Homo sapiens: one gene and its partners. The protein of the gene in region 1 purifies or fractionates together with the protein of each later gene. This does not show direct contact. Each region holds a gene or a part of one and is shown in the gene's direction. Other genes may lie near its edges.

Region 1 (5,849 bases):
TTTAAAAATAACATCTATCCATATGAATTCCTTCTCTGACGGCATACCTACTCATGTCTTGCATCCATTTCTGCACGTAGGGTGTTAATGTTTTACATACCGATTTATCAGAGGTCTAGAAAGTAGCATCAACCTTTTGTCACATTTGTTAAAAATATTTTCTCAAATTTGTCGTTTGCCTTTTTGGCAATGATAATTGATGTATCTAGATCCTGCATATTTATTCAAATTTGTCTACTCACCTTGCCTTTGGTTTCTTCCCATGTCTTAGTATCTAGGCCTTCCCCTCCGTATAATTCGTGTATGTTTTCTTCTTATCCTCTTGTGATTTGCTTGTTTGTAGTTCTCTGAGTTCTTATATTTATTTTGGTGATATTTAAACAAGTCCTTAGTTTTACTTTTTTCCCCCAACCTAATTTATTAAATAATTTAGCCGTTTATACTTGTCCCAACAAAGTGAAATGCCACATTTATCATACAGTGAATTTTTAAATATATTAAATTTTCCTAGACTTTCAGTTATTCCACTGATGCTTAATCCATCCATTCTTGTGTGAACACTACACTGTTTTAACTATAGTGTTGCAATATGCTTTAAGATTTGATAATACAGGTCTGTCCCCCCAGTTTTTTTGTTCGTTTGTTTGTTGAGACGGAGTTTCACTCTTGTTGCCCAAGCTGGAGTGCAGTGGCACGATCTCGGCTCACTGCAACCTCCGCCTCCCAGATGCAAGTGACTCTCCTGCCTCAGCCTACCAAGTAGCTGGGATTACAGGCGTGCACCACCACACTCGGCTAATTTTTTGTATTTTTAGTAGAAACAGGGTTTCACCATGTTAGCCAGTTTGGTCTCAAACTCCTGACCTCAGGTGATCTGCCTGCCCTTGGCCTCCCAAAGTGTTGGGATTACAGGCGTGAGCCACCGCGCCCCGCCATCCCCCCATTTTTAAAATATAAATTTCTTAGCTTTTCTCGCAGATATTCTCCCATTTGAAGGTTAGAAAACATGTTAAGTGCCCCCTCCTCCAATCTACCCACAACCATTAAAATTTTATTAAATAGAGTAATTTGGGTTAAGTTGGTGTTTGTGCCTCTATTCCTTCAAGCCTTCTTTATTATGTTTCAACCTTTGTAATGTCTTCATTAAGAGCCTGCACATTTATTCAGTTTATTTTTAGGTATCTTACACTTTTAAAATGGTTCGTTTGTTTTACATTAAAACTGCTCTTCAAGGTCCAATTGAAGCTTATCAAAGCTGATTTAATTTTTTTTTCCCAGGTGTGTCTTTATGTGCAGGAAAGCAGTCAGAAACTAAAGGCTCTTCAGTCACAGTTGTTTACTGAGTGTTCACTTAATACCTGGTGTAGTGATTATCCCTTTACACGCATTATCTCCTTTAATTTTCAGCAGGTTGGTTTAACTTTTATTTCCATTTTACACACGAGGCTCTGAGTTTGAGGAACTTGACAAAAATCACCCAGTTGGTAAGTGGATTTGATTCCAAATTTGTGAATCTCCAAAACTATCACAAAAATCAATCAGCCAAGAAGGATAGCCCAATGCTATGCCATCAGATGGGCTGACTCAAAAGGATGACTTTCCAAAAGCAAGCAATTGAATTAAAAAGACAATGTTTTCCATCCACCGGACCCGGCAAAAAAAGACTGGTTTTCCTCCAATGTGAGGCATAGTTCATATTCTGCAGGAGCACAATAATACCAGTGACTTAGGCTCCTTTAGAATTAGGGACTCGTGGGTGAACAAGGGTGGTTTTTCTGCAGCTTTCACTGGAATTGTCCGTTTGGAAATCTACCTCCCCATGGCAGGGCGGGTTTCAAAGAAGAGGAGAACAAACAAAAAACAAAAACAGGAAAAAAAAAAAAAGAGAGAGAGAAAGAAAAACAGGTGGAACCGACGTAAGGATGGCTAGAGCAGTGCGCGCGGAAGGCAGAACTTTCTGGGGGCGTCCTGTCCGCACGTTTCACGCGTGGTGCGCGCAGGTGGCGCCGCGGTCCCTTTGCTCCCTGCGCAAGCCGGAGGGGTGCCCAGAAGGCTACCACTAGCCTCAGCGAAGGTGAGAGAGAAGCTTTCCGCCGAAGCGAGGGAGGAGGGCGGGCAGGAAGCGGAGCCAGAGCTGGCAAAGAAAGGCTCCAATTCCCAGCCCCCCGCCCCGCGGGGCGCGGGGGCGCCGGCAGCGCATGCGCGAGGCCCGGCCCCCAATTCCCCCAGCGAGGGAGGGAGGCCCCCGGCGGCCGGGAGCCTGCGAGCCGCGGCGGGACCCGAGCGCACGCAGGGGCGCGGCGACGGCGGGGGCTAGTCGGGCTGCGGAGGCGGCCGTCGGGAGTGCGGAGCGCCTCGGACGAGGGTCCAACCGCCGGCAGGCACCAGAGGGCACGGCTGGCTCGGCACTGGGAGGGGCCCGGCGCTCGCAGCCCCCCACGCCCAGAGAGGATGCGTGAGTTTCGCCCCGGCTCGAGGGCAGGATGTGGGAGCAGGACAAAGGCTGGGCGGCGGGGGAGGAGTTGGGGACGGCGAGCCTGTGGCCGCCGCCAGAGCCCCAGCCTCGAGCGAGCTAGCGGAGTTGACAACTTTCTCTGCAACTTTTGCAAAAGGGAAGATAAAAATTCTGCAAGTTGTTGCACAGCTCCATATCGCCCCGTGTCCGGCGAGCAGAGGGGAGGGGGCACCGCAGCCTTCCGCGGACCAGAGGCGACCTCCAGCTCCTCTGAGCGGCGCAGGAGGGGGCGCCCGCCGGGGCCCGGGGCCAGGGGCGAGAGAGGATAGGGACACCGGGGGTCGGAGCCCGGGGTACGCTCTGGCCGCTGAAGTTGCCCGTGTCCACGCAGGGTGCGCCCTGAGAGCCGGGTAGCCTCGGATAGCGGCGCTGCGTACGCGATGATGGATGAGCCGTGGTGGGAAGGGCGCGTCGCCTCGGACGTCCACTGCACCCTGCGCGAGAAGGTCAGTCCCTCCCTGCCCTTGTCACTCTCAAGACTGGGTACAGTCTCCTTCGGTCTCGACTTCGTGTTCTCAGGTCGCCTGCGTGGGAACTCAGAACTCCCGGGTGCCTTTTTTTCCTCTTACCCTTTACCTTCTCCCGGAGTGTCTGAGCGGAATTGGGGGGCGGGGGTTAGAGACTGGAGATGGGAGAGATTGAAGTTGGTTTTTCTGATAAGGAGCTCAGAACTCTGGGCCAACTAGTCAGAGACAGCCACTGTACCTCTAAGGCAGTGTTTCCTATAGTATTGCCACCCTAGGTTATTTTAAACCGTACGTGAAGGGGTCTTTAAAAAATATTGTGTATTCATTCTAATGTGTAATTTAAGAATGTGTATGTATCTAGCAAGCTCTGCGTTTGCGATTTTCCATTTATTGTAATAATGATGTCGCAGTTTATTTTAAAACAAATTTAAGTAAAAGTAGTAACTCTATATAAAGATAAGTGGTAGTACAGGGAATACATGGTTATGGCCAAATACGTGTATCTATGTGTATATCTAGAATGGGACCGAATGAAATTTAAGGAACACCTGTATAATTGAAAGAGGCTACAAAACAGGGAGGCTGAGGGAAGAAAACAAAAACTCCCCTGCCGGTTTGCCTCCTGTGGCAGAAGGTGGGTGGGAGCAGCTGAAATGTGATCCCTGCACACCCCTCCCCTCAAGGAGAGAAGGGCTGAGGGGCATTGGGAAGGTGGAAGAGTCCAGGTGGGCTGGAGGCATGGCCTGTGTGTCTTGCCTCCAGTCCCTGGGCTGAGATTGGCAAGGGGTGGCTTGGGGAACAGGTGTGAAGTAGTGAATGGATTGGTTTCCTAGGGCTGCCATTACAAAGGACCACACAAACTGGAGGGCTTAAAGCAACAGAAATTTATTTCAGCTCTGGAAGCTGAAGATCCCAGATCAAGGTGTTAGCAGGGCCATGACTCTCAAAAGGCTCTAGAGAAGGATCTTTCCTTCTTCCTTCTTAAATTTGCTGGTGCTTGGTCATCCTTGGCATTCCTCGGCTTGTAGGTACATCATTCCAGTCTCTGCCTCCACTGTCACATGGTGCTATCTGTCTGTCTGTTTTCTCTTCTTACAAGGATACCCGATCATTGGAGTAGAACCCACCCTAATCCAATGTGATGTCATCATAATTTAATTACATCTGAAAAGACTCCATTTCCAAGTAAGGTCACATTCTGAAGTTCCAGATTAACATGACATTTGGGGGGACACTACTGCGCCCAATACAGGGAGGAAAAGGTCTTCCTAGTGCAGTACCTGAGCCCCCACACAGGTTTCACAGTCAGTGCATTTGCTCCGAGTGTCTGGAGGAGTTCTGCTTAAAGGGTCACCAGCTACTCAGTGTTTTTACCTCATTGAGTAGCTGTCTTCCTGTCCAATTAATGCCTTTTTCTTTTCTTTCTGTACCTGCTGACCTGTCTTTGTCCTGCGTTGCTTGGCAAGGCTGTGGCTTTCATCTGTTCCCTTGGTCTTCTTCCCAGAACAGAGTGGCCAACGTGTGGCACATTCTAGGCATCTGGACAAGAAGAAATCCAGGTCTTGTTGGTTCAGTTGAAAAGCAAGGAAAGTGGTAGGGGTATGGTCCTGGCCCTTTTCTGGAGGAGGTGGCTGAATGGAGCTAGTGAGGACTGCCGTGGAAATTGGGCTTCCTTGTTTATCATAGACTCAAGTGGTTGTCATTTCTGCTCATAGCTTAGGAGGAACGACTTCTACCTGATTTGCCCCTTTCTAGAGGGAAGGATTTCTAAGAGCAATAAATGCCATTTGTTTAGTTACCTGAGAATGCCCAACCTTTTATACATAAGGGAGGATGTCCTAAATGTTCCTTCGGCTGCTCAAAGAAGCAAGAAAGGCTCCATGAACTGCTATAGCCATGTCATAGTGCCGTATGAGTTTACTATTGGGCTGCCCACCTCGGAGAGACGATGAGTTTGTCCCAGTTTTGCAGGTTAGAAATAGAAAGCTCACCCAAGGACTGATGGCCAAGGTCAACCTTGACTTAAAGCTGGCCTTATTAGGACAAATCCCAAGTTCCTTTGGTTATAATGTCCCACCTCCTCAAAATACTGCTATTGTTCTCCTTTACTTTATTTCCTCTCCCACTTCAAAGAAGAAAATGCTTCTTCAAAAATTTGGCTTCATGGAGTTTGGCAAGAAGAGTGAAGAATAGGGGAACTTAGTAGCCATACTAGCCTCGCCTTTCTTGAGGAATGAGGGCTGGCATTTTGTTTTTCTCAGACAGGGTAATTGTTTTTCTCAAATGTCTACTCTGATAATATGTTTCTAACACTGTAGAACAACTTTACAAGAGCGTGGCACACAGTAGACACTCTTAGTTGAATGTTGCCTGATGAATACAAAGCATGTTTACATATGTGCTGTGTAACTGTTTCCATACAACCACAAGCAATTATCCTCACCTGACCGACACAGGAGGCGAAGTTGAGATCACTGAGACGTTGGGAGCCCCAGTTTGTCAAATATGAGATTCCAGTCTGGCATCATACTACAGGGTATCAAAAACTTGACACCATGGAAACAAGTCTTGGTACTGCATGCACGCTAGTGATGGAAGTGAAACCCTGATCTGCTCATTTAACCTCTCTAAATCTGGCCCCTATCATCCATTCTTCCCAGAATAGCCAGAATTTAGATTGTGTCATTCTCTGCTTAAAGACCTCCAATGTCATCTCACTGCACTTAAAATTCCCAGTCCTTACCACTGCGTGGAATACCCAGCATAGCCTGGCTCTGGCCTGCTCTCTGACCTTGTCTCTTACCCCTTCCCTACCCTCCATGCCATTGCTCTTAAGCCACACTGACCTCCTTTCTGTTCCTGGAACA
Region 2 (4,412 bases), on another chromosome or scaffold:
TCTGCAGCTTGGGGGCTGGGGGTGGATCCAGGCTCCTCATGCTCTGGGACCTTCCTGCTGGTGCTGCAGCACCATCTGCTGGGCTGCCCTGACTCCTGCGGAGGGGGAGGAGTGGGGCGAGAGGGGTGTGGCTTGTACAGACTGATGTCCCCAGTTACCTCTCCTAGGGGACTGCTCTCCAGAGCCAAGTCCAGTATCTCAGCATTGGCTTTGGGCCTAGGGACCTGGGCTGGAGGCCCGACTCTGCCATTTTTGACAAGATCAGCAGGTCAGAGGAGTGTCACAAGAAATCTGTGAATTTGTAGACAATACTCAGATTCCATGTTTTGGCTGCAGTGGGCATCACTGTGGCATCTTGGAATAGGACCCTGTGGTGGGAGGCAGGAGGCCTGCTTCTCGTTGTGTCTATTTCATTGGTGACTTTGGGATGAATGGGTCTCCTCATCTGTATATGAGGGGGTGGCGGCAGGGTATGTCAAGTGACCCTGAGACCCAGTGCCCCTACAAATTCTGAAATCCCAAGAAGGAGGGGATCTTGGGAGTTGTATGGAGGAAAATCGAACAGAAGGGGCTCCTGGAGTGGGGATGGGTGGGGGTTCTGTGTAGAATAATTCATTAAACAAAGGGTTCTGCAGCTTAAAATATACGAGTTGGGGTCAGGAGCAGTAGGTGGTTCATGCCTGTGATTTCAGCATTTTGGGAGGCCAAGATGGGAGGATCACATGAGTCCAGGAGTTCAAGACCAGCCTGGGTAACATAGTAAGACCCTGTTTCTACATAAAATACTAAAATGAGCCGGGTGTGGTAGCAGGCACCTGTGGTCCCAGCAACCTGGGAGTTGGGAGAATCACTTGAGCCCAGGAGGTTGAGACTGCGGTGAGCCAAGTTCATGTCATTGCACTCCAGCCCGGGCAACAGAGTGAGACCCTGCCTCAAAAAATACATACACGAGTTGGAAACCTCTGTCACGTGGCTCATGCACTCACAGTCTTAACTGAGCATCATTTAAGCGCCAGGTTCTTAGGTGTAGCCGTGAGCTGATGAGAGCAGCAGCCCTCTGTTGCTTTGCCTGTAGCCTGTTTTCCTGACAGCCCCTGCCTTTCTCTCTCTATCCCAGGTCAGAAGTTGAGTAGCAGGGGCCTAGGAGGGCTCGAAGCCTTCACAGCGATGGCAGAGAAGCGACCCCTGAGAACCCTGGGGCCTGTGATGTATGGCAAGCTGCCCCGCTTAGAGACAGACTCCGGGCTCGAGCACAGCCTGCCCCACTCTGTTGGTAACCAGGATCCCTGCACCTACAAGGGGTCCTACTTCTCCTGCCCCATGGCAGGTACTCCTAAGGCCGAGTCTGAGCAGTTGGCGTCCTGGACCCCATACCCACCCTTGTACTCTACCGGTATGGCAGGACCCCCACTTCAGGCAGACAACCTGCTGACCAACTGCCTGTTCTACCGCTCGCCAGCAGAAGGCCCTGAGAAGATGCAGGACTCCAGCCCTGTTGAGCTCCTGCCCTTCAGTCCCCAGGCTCACTCCTACCCAGGCCCACCACTGGCAGCACCCAAACCTGTCTACCGCAACCCTCTGTGCTATGGGCTCTCAACTTGTCTGGGGGAAGGAGCAGTGAAGAGGCCACTGGATGTTGACTGGACTCTGGCGACTGGGCCCCTGTTGCCCTCAGCTGACCCACCCTGCTCTCTGGCCCCAGCTCCTAGCAAGGGCCAGACTCTGGATGGCACCTTCTTGCGGGGGGTGCCAGCTGAGGGGTCCAGTAAAGACTCCTCAGGGAGCTTCTCCCCATGCCAGCCCTTCCTGGAGAAATATCAGACCATCCACAGCACGGGCTTCCTGGCCTCCAGGTACACAGGTCCTTACCCTAGGAACTCCAAGCAAGCAATGTCTGAGGGGCCCTCAAGTCCTTGGACCCAGCTGGCCCAGCCCCTGGGGCCACCCTGTCAGGACACCGGGCCCACCCACTACCCACCACCCCACCACCCACCACCCCACCCTCCACAGGCCCTGCCTTGCCCTCCAGCCTGTCGCCACCCAGAGAAGCAGGGCAGCTACAGCCCAGCACTCCCACTGCAGCCTCTGGGGGGCCACAAGGGGACCGGGTACCAGGCTGGTGGGCTGGGCAGCCCCTACCTGAGGCAGCAGGCAGCCCAGGCACCTTACATTCCCCCACTGGGGCTGGACGCTTACCCCTACCCCTCTGCCCCTCTCCCAGCACCCTCTCCAGGCCTCAAGCTGGAGCCGCCTCTCACTCCACGGTGCCCATTGGACTTTGCCCCCCAGACACTGAGTTTTCCTTATGCCCGGGATGACCTCTCTCTCTATGGAGCATCCCCTGGGCTTGGAGGGACACCACCTTCCCAGAACAATGTGCGGGCTGTGCCACAGCCTGGTGCCTTCCAGAGGGCATGCCAGCCTTTGCCAGCGAGCCAGCCCTGCTCAGAGCCTGTGAGGCCTGCACAGGAAGCCGAAGAGAAGACCTGGCTGCCCAGCTGCAGGAAAGAGAAGCTCCAGCCCCGGCTCAGTGAGCACTCTGGGCCGCCCATCGTCATCCGAGACAGTCCAGTTCCCTGTACCCCCCCAGCACTGCCCCCCTGTGCCCGGGAGTGCCAGTCTCTTCCACAGAAGGAGGGCGCAAGGCCACCCAGCTCTCCACCAATGCCTGTCATTGACAATGTCTTCAGCCTGGCCCCCTACCGTGACTATCTGGATGTGCCGGCACCCGAGGCCACAACTGAGCCTGACTCTGCCACAGCTGAGCCTGACTCAGCCCCAGCCACCAGTGAAGGTCAGGACAAAGGCTGCAGGGGGACCCTGCCTGCCCAGGAGGGCCCCTCAGGGAGTAAACCCCTAAGGGGCTCACTTAAGGAGGAGGTAGCCCTGGATTTGAGTGTGAGGAAGCCCACAGCAGAGGCCTCCCCTGTCAAGGCTTCCCGTTCTGTGGAGCATGCCAAGCCTACTGCAGCCATGGATGTGCCAGATGTGGGCAACATGGTGTCAGATCTGCCAGGCCTGAAAAAGATAGACACAGAAGCACCAGGCTTGCCTGGGGTGCCAGTGACCACAGATGCCATGCCAAGGACCAACTTCCACAGCTCTGTGGCCTTCATGTTCCGAAAGTTCAAGATCCTCCGTCCGGCACCTTTGCCTGCAGCCGTGGTCCCGTCCACGCCCACCTCAGCTCCTGCTCCCACACAGCCTGCACCCACCCCCACATCTGGGCCCATTGGACTGCGGATTCTCGCTCAACAGCCCTTGTCTGTGACCTGCTTCAGCCTGGCACTGCCCAGCCCTCCAGCCGTAGCTGTGGCCTCCCCTGCCCCTGCTCCAGCTCCATCCCCTGCTCCGGCTCGAGCTCAGGCTCCAGCTTCAGCCCGGGATCCAGCTCCAGCTCCAGCTCCAGTTGCAGGCCCTGCTCCAGCATCTACTTCAGCCCCAGGGGACTCCCTGGAGCAGCATTTTACAGGACTACATGCGTCCCTGTGTGATGCTATTTCTGGCTCCGTCGCCCACTCTCCTCCAGAGAAGCTTCGCGAGTGGCTAGAGACGGCTGGGCCCTGGGGCCAGGCTGCGTGGCAGGACTGCCAGGGTGTGCAGGGGCTGCTGGCCAAGCTGCTGTCTCAGCTGCAGCGCTTCGATCGCACCCACCGGTGCCCCTTCCCCCATGTGGTGCGAGCTGGCGCCATCTTCGTGCCCATTCACCTGGTGAAGGAGCGGCTCTTCCCTCGGCTGCCACCCGCTTCTGTGGACCATGTGCTGCAGGAGCATCGTGTGGAGCTGCGGCCCACCACGCTGTCGGAGGAGCGGGCACTGCGGGAGCTCGCCCTGCCAGGCTGCACCTCACGCATGCTGAAGTTACTGGCGCTGCGCCAGCTGCCGGACATTTACCCCGACCTTCTCGGCCTGCAGTGGCGCGACTGTGTACGCCGCCAGCTGGGTGAGCATGGGGCAGCCCCAGTGGCCACCGGAGCTGTGTGAGCAAGTGACAGGTGTGTGTGCTGTGTGAGTGCGTCACAGCTGGGGCTGAGTGATTCCAAGGACTCCTGCCCGGGTAGGGGGCTTTAGGATGAGCTCTAGGTACCCCCACCCCTTGACCCTCCAGACAATCAGTGAGCACCTTCATAGCCTCTTTTGTAGGCTTCTGAACATGCCAGCTGCTCTGTCCCCATGGAAACTCCTCGGCCTCCCCTGGTGCTGCACCTTCTTGGATTCCCTCCTCCTCTGCCTGTGCCTTCTCCATCTTTGGTGCAGTGTTTCCGGCACTCTGGTTAGGCCCTGTTTTCTAGCTGAGATAATTTCCCTGATCTCCAGCCTAGCATCCCCTTTGTGAGCTCTAGCCCTAAATAACCCACTGCATGCTGGGCCTCAGCCCCTGGGTCTCTCTCCCACACTGAACTCATCCCAAA
Region 3 (4,412 bases), on another chromosome or scaffold:
GGTGCGATCTTGGCTCACTGCAACCTCTGCCTCCCAGGCTCAAGTGATTCTCCTGCCTCAGCTTCTCAAGTAGCTGGGATTACAGGCACACGTCACCACGCCCGGCTAATTTTTGTATTTTTAGTAGAGATGGGGTTTCACCATGTTGGCCAGGATGGTCTCAATCTTTTGACCTCATGATCTGCCTGCCTCGGCCTCCTGAAGTGCTGGGATGACAGGCATGAGCCACCACACCAGGCCTAGGGAGGGGTTTTCAAGGCTTATTTTTTATTTTTATTTTTTAGATAGAATATCGCTCTGTAACCCAGGCTGGAGTGCAGTGGCACGATCTTGGCTCACTGCAACCTCCGCCTCACAGGTTCAAGCGATTTTCCTGTCTCAGCTTCCTGAGTAGCTGGGATTACAGGCGTCTGCCACCACATCTGGCTAATTTTTGGGTTTTTAGTAGAGACGGGATTTCACCATGTTGGCCAGGCTGGTCTTGAACTCCTGACCTGAAGTGATCCGCCCACATCTGCCTCCTAAAGTGCTGGGATTACAGGCATGAGCCACCGTGCCCGGCTTGAATCGCCTAGTTTCATCTGACTAGATCTCATAATGACATTTATCAGGCTAGAATTCTGTGTGTATTGAAATGTATGACATGATACTACCATTGTTAAGGATTCTTTTTGAAAAGTCATACTTATTAAGGTATAATTTACACTTAGTAAAATTCATCTGTTTTAGGTGTAAAGTTCTGTATAGTTCTGCTAAAACAGATGAATTACAAAAAACAGTGACAGTTGTGTAACTGCCACCACCACAATTAAGATACAAGATATAGAATATTTCCATCACTCCAAAAATTTCCATAATTATGCCCTTTTGAAGTAAATCCCTTCAGCCCACCCCTCACTCCCTGGCAACAGCTCATTTGTTTTTTATCCCTATAGTTTGGCCTTTCCCAAAATGCCATATAAATTGGCATCACACAGTGTATATAGCCTTTTGAGACTGGCTTCTTTCATTTAGCATAACACTTTTGAGATTCAATAACATGTCTCTTTTTTATTAATAAACTTTTTTAGAAAGTTTATAGAAAAATCATGAAGTTACCAATTTACAGAAAATTTGTAATTGTAGTACAGAGAAATCCCTTAAACCCTGCACCTAGTTTCCCCTATGTTTAAATTTATGTAAACTACTAATTTTTGCTAATGGTCAAACCTGCAAGGTTCTAGAATTAAGTTTGTTGAAAATGGGAAACAATATGAAGATTTCGATCAAGACGATGACTTTCTAATGCCTTTTTTTTTTTTGAAATGCAGTCTCGCTCTGTCGCCCAGGCTGGAGTGCAGTGGCGCGATCTCAGCTCACTGCAACTTCCTCCTCCTGGGTTCAAGCGATTCTCGTGCCTCATCCTCCTGAGTAGCTGGGATTACAGGCACGCACCACTATGCCCAGCTAATTTTTGTATTTTTGTATTTTTTGTATTTTTTACCATCCCAAACAAACTCTGTAGCTGTTAAGCAGTGACTGTTCATTCTCTTCTCAACCCAGCCCCTGGTAACCACTAATCTACTTTTTTTTTTTTTTTTTTTGAGATGGAGGCTGGAATGTAGTGGCACGATCTCAGCTCACTGCAACCTCTGCCTCCCAGGTTCAAGCAATTCTGCCTCAGCCTCCCGAGTAGCTGGGACTACAGGCATGTACCACCACGCCCAGCTAATTTTTGTATTTTTAATAGAGACAGGGTTTCACCATGTTGGCCAGGATGGTCTTGATCCACCTGCCTTGGCCTCCCAAAGTGTTGGGATTACAGGCGTGAGCCCCTGTGCCCAGCCTCTACTTTTTGTCTCTGTGAATTTACCTATTCTAGATCTTTCGTGTGATTGGAATCGTGTAATATTTAGCCTTTTGTGTCTGACTTATGTCACTTAGCGTAATGTTTTCAAGGTTCATACATGTTGTAGAATGTATCATTTTTATGGCTGAATCATATTTAATGTACCACATTTTGTATATTAATTCATTGATGGATACTGCATTTGTTTTCACCTTTTGGCTATTATAAACAATGCTGCTATGAGTATTAGTGTACTCCTATTTTCAGTTCTTTTGGGTATATATCTAGGAGTGGAATTGCTGGGTTGTTGTAATTCCATATTTAATTTTTTGAAGAAACACTAAAGTGTTTTCCAAAGTGGCTGTACCATTTTACATTCCCTTAGCAGCAAAGTATCAGGGTTCCACTTTTTCTACACCCTTGCCACCACTTGTTGTTTTCCTTTTTTCCAGTTATAGCCATTCTAGTAGGTTGACTAGTGATATTGAGTATCTTTTCATGTCCTTATTGATAATAAGTTGGCTTTTTTTTTTTTTTCTTGAGACGGTGTCTCACTCTGTTGCCCAGGCTGGAGTGCAATGGCATGATCTCAGCTCACTGCAACCTCTGCCTCCCAGGTTCAAGTGATTCTCTTGTCTCATCCTCCCAAGTAGCTGGGATTACAGGTGCCTGTCAGCACGCGTGGCTAATTTTTGTATTTTTGGTAGAGACAGTGTTTCACCACGTTGGCCAGGCTGGTCTCGAATTGCTGACCTCAAGTGATCCACCCACCTCGGCCTCCCAAAGTGCTGGGATTATAGATGTAAGCCACTGCGCCCAGACTAAGGTGGCTTTTTTTTTTTGTTTTGTTTTGTTTTTTATGAGGTCTTGCTGTGTTGTCCAGGCTGGGATACAATGGCTATTCGCAGAGACAATCGTAATGCAGTATAGCCTTGACCTGATAGGCTCAAAGGATCCTTCTGCCTCAGCCTCCAGAGTAGGTGGGAGTACAGATGCATGCCACTGTGCACAGTTAATGGTAGCAACATACTGATGCTTGTTTCAACAATGGTCAAGGCAGGGTGATGTTAACATTTTTTAAAAGGAAAAATAATTGGATGGAAACGTATTTTAAAATCGCTATTATATGCTAAGCATTTTATTATATAATTTTATTTAACTCTGAAAACACAGTATTATCTGTGTTTTACAGATGAGAAAACTAAAGACAAAGGGAGATCAAGTAACTTACTTTAAAAATCACACAGTTGGCCTGGCAGTGTGGCTGATGCCTGTAATCCCAGCACTTTGGGAGGCTGAGGTGGGTGGATCACCTGAGGTCAGGAGTTCGAGACCAGCCTGGCCAACATGGTGAAACCCTGTCTCTACTAAAAATACAAAAATCAGCCGGGTGTGGTGGCGGGCACCTGTAATCCTGGCTACTTGGGAGGCTGAGTTAGGAGAATCGGCTTGAACCTGGGAGGTGGAGGTTGCAATGAGCGGAGACTGTGCCACTGTACTCCAGCCTGGGAGACAGAGCAAGACTCCATCTCAAAAAAAAAAAAAATCACACAGTTTATAAGAGGGAAGTCTGATATTTGCTTGCTGCTACATGGTTCTTTCTCCTGCTATCACTGTTATATAAAACTATGAATTTAATCCACATGTTGATGTCATGTGAAAGTAAGACTTTTTTAGTCATAGAAATTGATGGAGTTTGGGGGAAAATTCCAGAAGTAGTCATGTCAGTTTTTCGTTATTTTTTATTATTCACTATTCAGGGTTTCTCAGTTGCAACTCAGTTTTATCTTTTTTCTACCTTAAGCCATGTTAAATGCAGGTATATACCATAACATTTAACACAGAAGCTTTACTGTTATCTGTCATGTTGGAATTGGGGTGATGTCAAAGTTTATTTAATGATTCATGTCAAGTGAATGAACAATGAAGTAGATCAAAGTTCAGTAATTATCTCCACAAAGCAGTACTACTGTTGGGATTCTGAGTTAGATTGAAAACTTCTTGGTCAGCAAAATGTCTTTCAATAGGGATCTCTTGCTGTGACTATATCCCCTTTCCTTGTCCCCCTCCCACATACATACAGTGATACACATATGCAGACATAGAAAATTATCATGGTTAGATACCCTGGTTGTGAATCACTTATGTGTAGAATGTTGCTCCTAAGGGCTGAAGACTACTAGTCTTCAGGAATAATGACTACTAGTGGATATTAAGCTATGGTGCAACCATTGCCTTTTGTCAAAATAGAATTAAGGCCTTTATTAATGTGCTTATAGTAGTTGTGCAGTGGATAATCGTTTTAATAGAGTAATATGGAGGCTAAAGAATGGAGTGGGGGCCAGGTGCGGTGGCTCATGCCTGTAGTCCCAGCACTTTGGGAAGCTGAGGTGGGTGGATCTCTTGTGCCCAGAAGTTCAAGACCAGCATGGGCAACATGGTGAAACCGCATCTCTACTAAAAATAAAAAATTAGCCAGGCATGGTGGTGCTCGCCTATAATCCCAGCTACTCAGGAGGCTGAGGCGGGAGGATCGCTTGAGCTGGAAGGTGGAGGTTGCAGTGAGCCTCCTGACCTTGTGATC
Region 4 (4,412 bases), on another chromosome or scaffold:
GGTGAAACCCCGTCTCTACTAAAAATACAAAAAATTAGCCAGGCGTAGTGGCAGGTGCCTGTAATCCCAGCTACTCAGGAGACTGAGGCAGAAGAATGACGTGAACCCGGTGAGTGGAGGTTGCAGTGAACCAAGATTGTGCCACTGCATTCCAGCCTGGGCAGCAGACGGGGACTCAGTCTAAAAAAAAAAAAAAGGAATGTGACTAAGAAATCTTAACTGTTAGTAGCAGGTGACAGGATGACATAGTGGTTAAGAACTTGACTTCTTTAGTTAAAGAACAGAATTCAGTTTGAGGCTATGTGGATTTGAGACAGATTACTTAATCTGTTGAACGCCTGGTTTTCTCATCTAGAACAGAGGTTTCAGTCGGGGCAGTTTTGATCCTCAGAAGTTTGTCATTCAAACATCACATGTTCTCACTTATTTATGGGGTTTAAAAATCAAAACAATGGAACTCGTGGACATAGAGAGTGGAAGGATGGTTACCAGAGGGTGGGAAGGGGAGTGGAGGGTTGGGGGAGAGGTGGGATGGTTAAAGTGTACAAAAAAAATAGAATATGAATAACACCTAGTATATGATAGTCTAACAGGGGGATTATAATGAATAATAACTTAATTGTACTTTTTTTTTTTTTTTGAGAGTAGTCTCGCTCTGTGGCCCAGGCTAGAGTGCAGTGGTGTGATTTCAGCTCACTGCAACCTCCGCCTCCTGGGTTCGAGCGATTCTCCTAACTTAGCCTCCCAAGCAGCTGGGATTACAGGCATGTGCCACGACGCCCAGCTAATTTTTGTATTTTTCGTAGAGATGGGGTTTCACCATGTTGGCCAGACTGGTCTCCTACTCCTGACCTCACGTGATCCGCCTGCCTTGGCCTCCCAAAGTGCCGGGGTTACGGGCGTGAGCCACCTCTCCCGGCCACTATTGTACATTTTTAAATAACGAAAAGAGTGTAATTGGATTGTTTGTAACACAAAGGATAAATGTTTGAGGGGATGGATGCCCCATTCTCCATGATGTGATTAGTTCACATTGCATGCCTGGATCAAAACATTTCATGTACCCTGTAAATATATATACCTGCTATGTACCCACAAAAATGAAAAATTTAAAAATTTTAAAAATCGAAATTTATCATTGTGTAGCGACAACAGTGACAGCAGATTTGGGGTTGCCACACTGGGCAGGGAGGGAGAGGATGCTGCTGGCATCTAGTGGGTAGGGGCCAGGGCTTCTTATAAACATGCTACAGTGCACGGGACAACTCCCAACAATAAGGAGTTATCCAGCCACACATGCCAGTGACACTGAGGCTAAGAAACCCTGATCCAGAGGATGGTGAAAATAATACTGGATGATAAAGTTGTGAGCTTTATTTTACTTTATTTATTTTTTGTATAAATAGGGTCTTACTATGTTTCTTAGTCTGGTCTCTAACTCCTGGTTTCAAGTGAGCCTCGCACCTTGGCCTTCCAAAGTGCTGGGACAACAGGCATGGGCCATCACGCCTGGTCCTGTTGCAGTTTTTAAATGAGATAATTCATGGAAAGAATGATGCATTGTGTCAGTCCTCTTCTCTCTGGTCTCACTCACAGTAAAAGCTGTACTTCTATGAACTGCAAGGCCCTATGTGACCTGGGTGGGCCCTGTTACCCTTTGATTTCACCTTCTACCACTTGTCACCTTGTCCACGCCACTCACCTCCATTCCCCATGCACCTGAGCACACGCCTGCCCTAGGGCCTTTGCAATTGCTGCTCCTGTGTCTGAAACACTCTTCTTCCAGGTGCCCCATGGCACACTCCCTGACCTCCTTCGGCTCTCTGCTCAAATGTCACCTAACTAGGGAGGACTTCCCTGGCCACCCTGTATTCCATAGCAGTAGACTCTGATTGTTAGAGTTTTCTCGGCCCCACACTGCTTGCTTTCCATCTGAATCCACTTAGCCCCTTCAGCCTCTGCTTCCTTTTGGCAGGTCTTGTTCTTTCATCTGCTGTGGAAGGTGAACCACAGTTGTGCATATTTGGCCTGTGAAGTGTATATTCCTCTTTAACAGAGTTTGCAATTTTTTTTTAATATCAAAGGTAAACACGATTGATTTTAGAGATAGAACTTTATACAACCAAACCTTAAGTATCCACACAAACTGACAGAATGCTGTAAATTTAGCTTAGGAATATGCCACTCTGCTTATATTTTAATGGGAAGGTGACTGTGAAGTCCGTACATGCAGCAAGGGCTCCACACAACATAAAGCGGTTGTTAGGAAGGCCTGGACTGATATCCGCTTTCCTGAACTGGCCTCTGATGGCTGAGCAGTGTTCTGTGCCTTGCTCACACTCGAAGATCATGGTCAGGCTGTGGCAGACACTCAGTTAGGGCAGAGGTCCCCTGTTTTCTCTGATTGTAGCTCTCAAGTTCCAATAGAGTCCACATTGGCTGGCTCTTCCCTCAGGTCCTGGCTCATGCATCTCTCAACAGATACTTGCAGAGAATGGCTGCTGTATGCCTGGCACATTCTAGGCTGTGGGCTGTAGCAGTGAATGAAAGGCAAAAGTTCCTCTCCTGGAGTGCCATTGTGAATAGAGTGCTGGGGGATTGAAAGCATCGTGCTTGACTCATCCCTATTTTTAATACTGCTTCTGATGAGACGGTAGCTAGGCAGTTGTAATTTGTCCTTCTTCTCTTTTTCTTTCCAGATGTCCTCAATGGAACCATAACGTTTTTGCCTTTGGAAGAAGATGATGAGGGGAACCTAAAGGTTAAGATGAGCAATGTGTATCAAATTCAGCTCAGTCATAGCAAAGAAGAATGGTAAGAGCTGGACAGTGGACTCCTAGTTTTATGGTTTCCATTGAGGATTTCTTTAGGTAGCCAAAGGATTCTGGGTTGCCAGGGCTTAAGGTCCTGTCTCTGAGGTGGTTATGGTTTGTAGGAATGCAGTTGCTAGCTTATGTGCCCAGGCCATGTTGCTCTTCCTGTTGGTGCCTGGCCTCGAGTCTGGGTGGTCACAGCCTGGCTGGGGTTTCTGATCTCTACCTTCCCTGTGGCTGTGATGATCAGCAGCCCTTAGCATTAGCTCTGAAGTCAAACTCAAATTTCTTTATTGTTATTGTTATTATTATTATTGAGACAGTCTTACACTGTTGCCCAGGCTGGAGTGCATTGGTGCCATCGCATTTCACTGCAACCTCTACCTCCTGCATTTAAGTGATTCTCGTGCCTCAGTCTGCACAGTACAGGCACCCACCACCACACCCGGCTAATTTTTGTATTTTCAGTAGAGACGGGGTTTCGCCATGTTGGCCAGGCTGGTATCAAACTCCTGACCTCAGGTGATCCACCTGCCTTGGCCTCCCAAAGTGCTGAGATTTCAGGCATGAGCCACCAAGCCCAGCCTATTTTGTTATTTTTTATGACTTAGTAATGGGGAATAGGTGATGGTTCCTTCTGTAGTAAGTATTCAGTGATACTTATTATAAAGTAGCGGTTTAATAAGCACCCTTAATTCCATATGGTATTTGGGCCTGTATAGAAAGTATAAAATTTAATTCATACCGTTTGGTATTTTTAAAACGAAAAAGTCAGAGGAGGGGTGAATTCATTCATGACTTGTCAGCTGATATTTTCCTGAGTGCCACATCCAAGCTGTACTTTCCGAAACAGTCTTGGGGATAATGTCTGAGTAACTGGAATGAGTTTGCCCGGGGCTTCCTAGAAAGCAGAGGGATGTGGCGAGAAGAGCATGGGCTTCCCACTAGCAGTGTGGTCTTGGGGATGTGCTCTACCTCCTGGCCCTCTGTCTACTCACCTTGAAATGGGTTTAATCATTCCTGAGCCTCTGAGGAGGTGGCAGGGCTGGGCCTCACATGGATCTGTTGCAGCCTTCGTGCTTGAAAGGGGTGCTCAGGCCCTGTAGCATGAAGCCCTTTGAGAACCATCCAGAGGTTGCCCCGAGTTGTCAGGGGATCCTGCCCTGAGGTCCCTTCCTGCTAGCATGCCCTTGTTGGAGAGTGAGGAGTGAGAGCAGACACTAGGAGAAGCCATGCTTACCTGTGCCAGGCACCTCTGTGCTCGGCGATGCTGAACTGTGTGCCCATTAGCCAGAAAGTGGTGCCTGTCTTGGGGGCAGTGGGCACCTGGTGCAGGGCGGGGTTGCAGGAGGTGCTTGGCATGTGCCTGCTGCGTTGGAGTGACTTTCATTGCTCTTTGACAAGCTACTGAGGACGTGGCTGCTGCTCCCATCTTCCCAGGGTGGCATTTCTAGTCGGCATCGGAGTGACGTTCACTGCTCTTTAACGAGCTACTGAGGACGTGGCTGCTGCCCCCACCTTCCCAGGGTGGCATTTCTAGTCATAGCCTCACCGGGCCGCTATTCCTTGCAGTCTCTGGGCACAGGTCACACTTCAGGG

What was found. Proteins that work in one complex are often made in the same cells at the same time.
Region 2: the proteins of CCNJL (region 1) and C15orf39 purify together in Homo sapiens (affinity purification with mass spectrometry; 3 studies listed by BioGRID and IntAct, with this or other methods). This does not show direct contact.
Region 3: the proteins of CCNJL (region 1) and PIK3C2A purify together in Homo sapiens (affinity purification with mass spectrometry; 3 studies listed by BioGRID and IntAct, with this or other methods). This does not show direct contact.
Region 4: the proteins of CCNJL (region 1) and TRMT44 purify together in Homo sapiens (affinity purification with mass spectrometry; 3 studies listed by BioGRID and IntAct, with this or other methods). This does not show direct contact.

Annotation. Positions count from the first base shown.
Region 1 is NC_000005.10:160,308,970-160,314,818, reverse strand, and holds the start of CCNJL (cyclin-J-like protein), read left to right. Parts: upstream 1-2,254; 5' UTR 2,255-2,455; intron 2,456-2,846; 5' UTR 2,847-2,895; coding exon 2,896-2,961; intron 2,962-5,849.
Region 2 is NC_000015.10:75,204,882-75,209,293, forward strand, and holds part of C15orf39 (uncharacterized protein C15orf39), read left to right. Parts: intron 1-1,117; 5' UTR 1,118-1,167; coding exon 1,168-3,943; intron 3,944-4,412.
Region 3 is NC_000011.10:17,197,075-17,201,486, reverse strand, and holds part of PIK3C2A (phosphatidylinositol 4-phosphate 3-kinase C2 domain-containing subunit alpha), read left to right. Parts: intron 1-4,412.
Region 4 is NC_000004.12:8,443,777-8,448,188, forward strand, and holds part of TRMT44 (probable tRNA (uracil-O(2)-)-methyltransferase), read left to right. Parts: intron 1-2,699; coding exon 2,700-2,814; intron 2,815-4,412. UniProt on the Homo sapiens protein: Probable adenosyl-L-methionine (AdoMet)-dependent tRNA (uracil-O(2)-)-methyltransferase.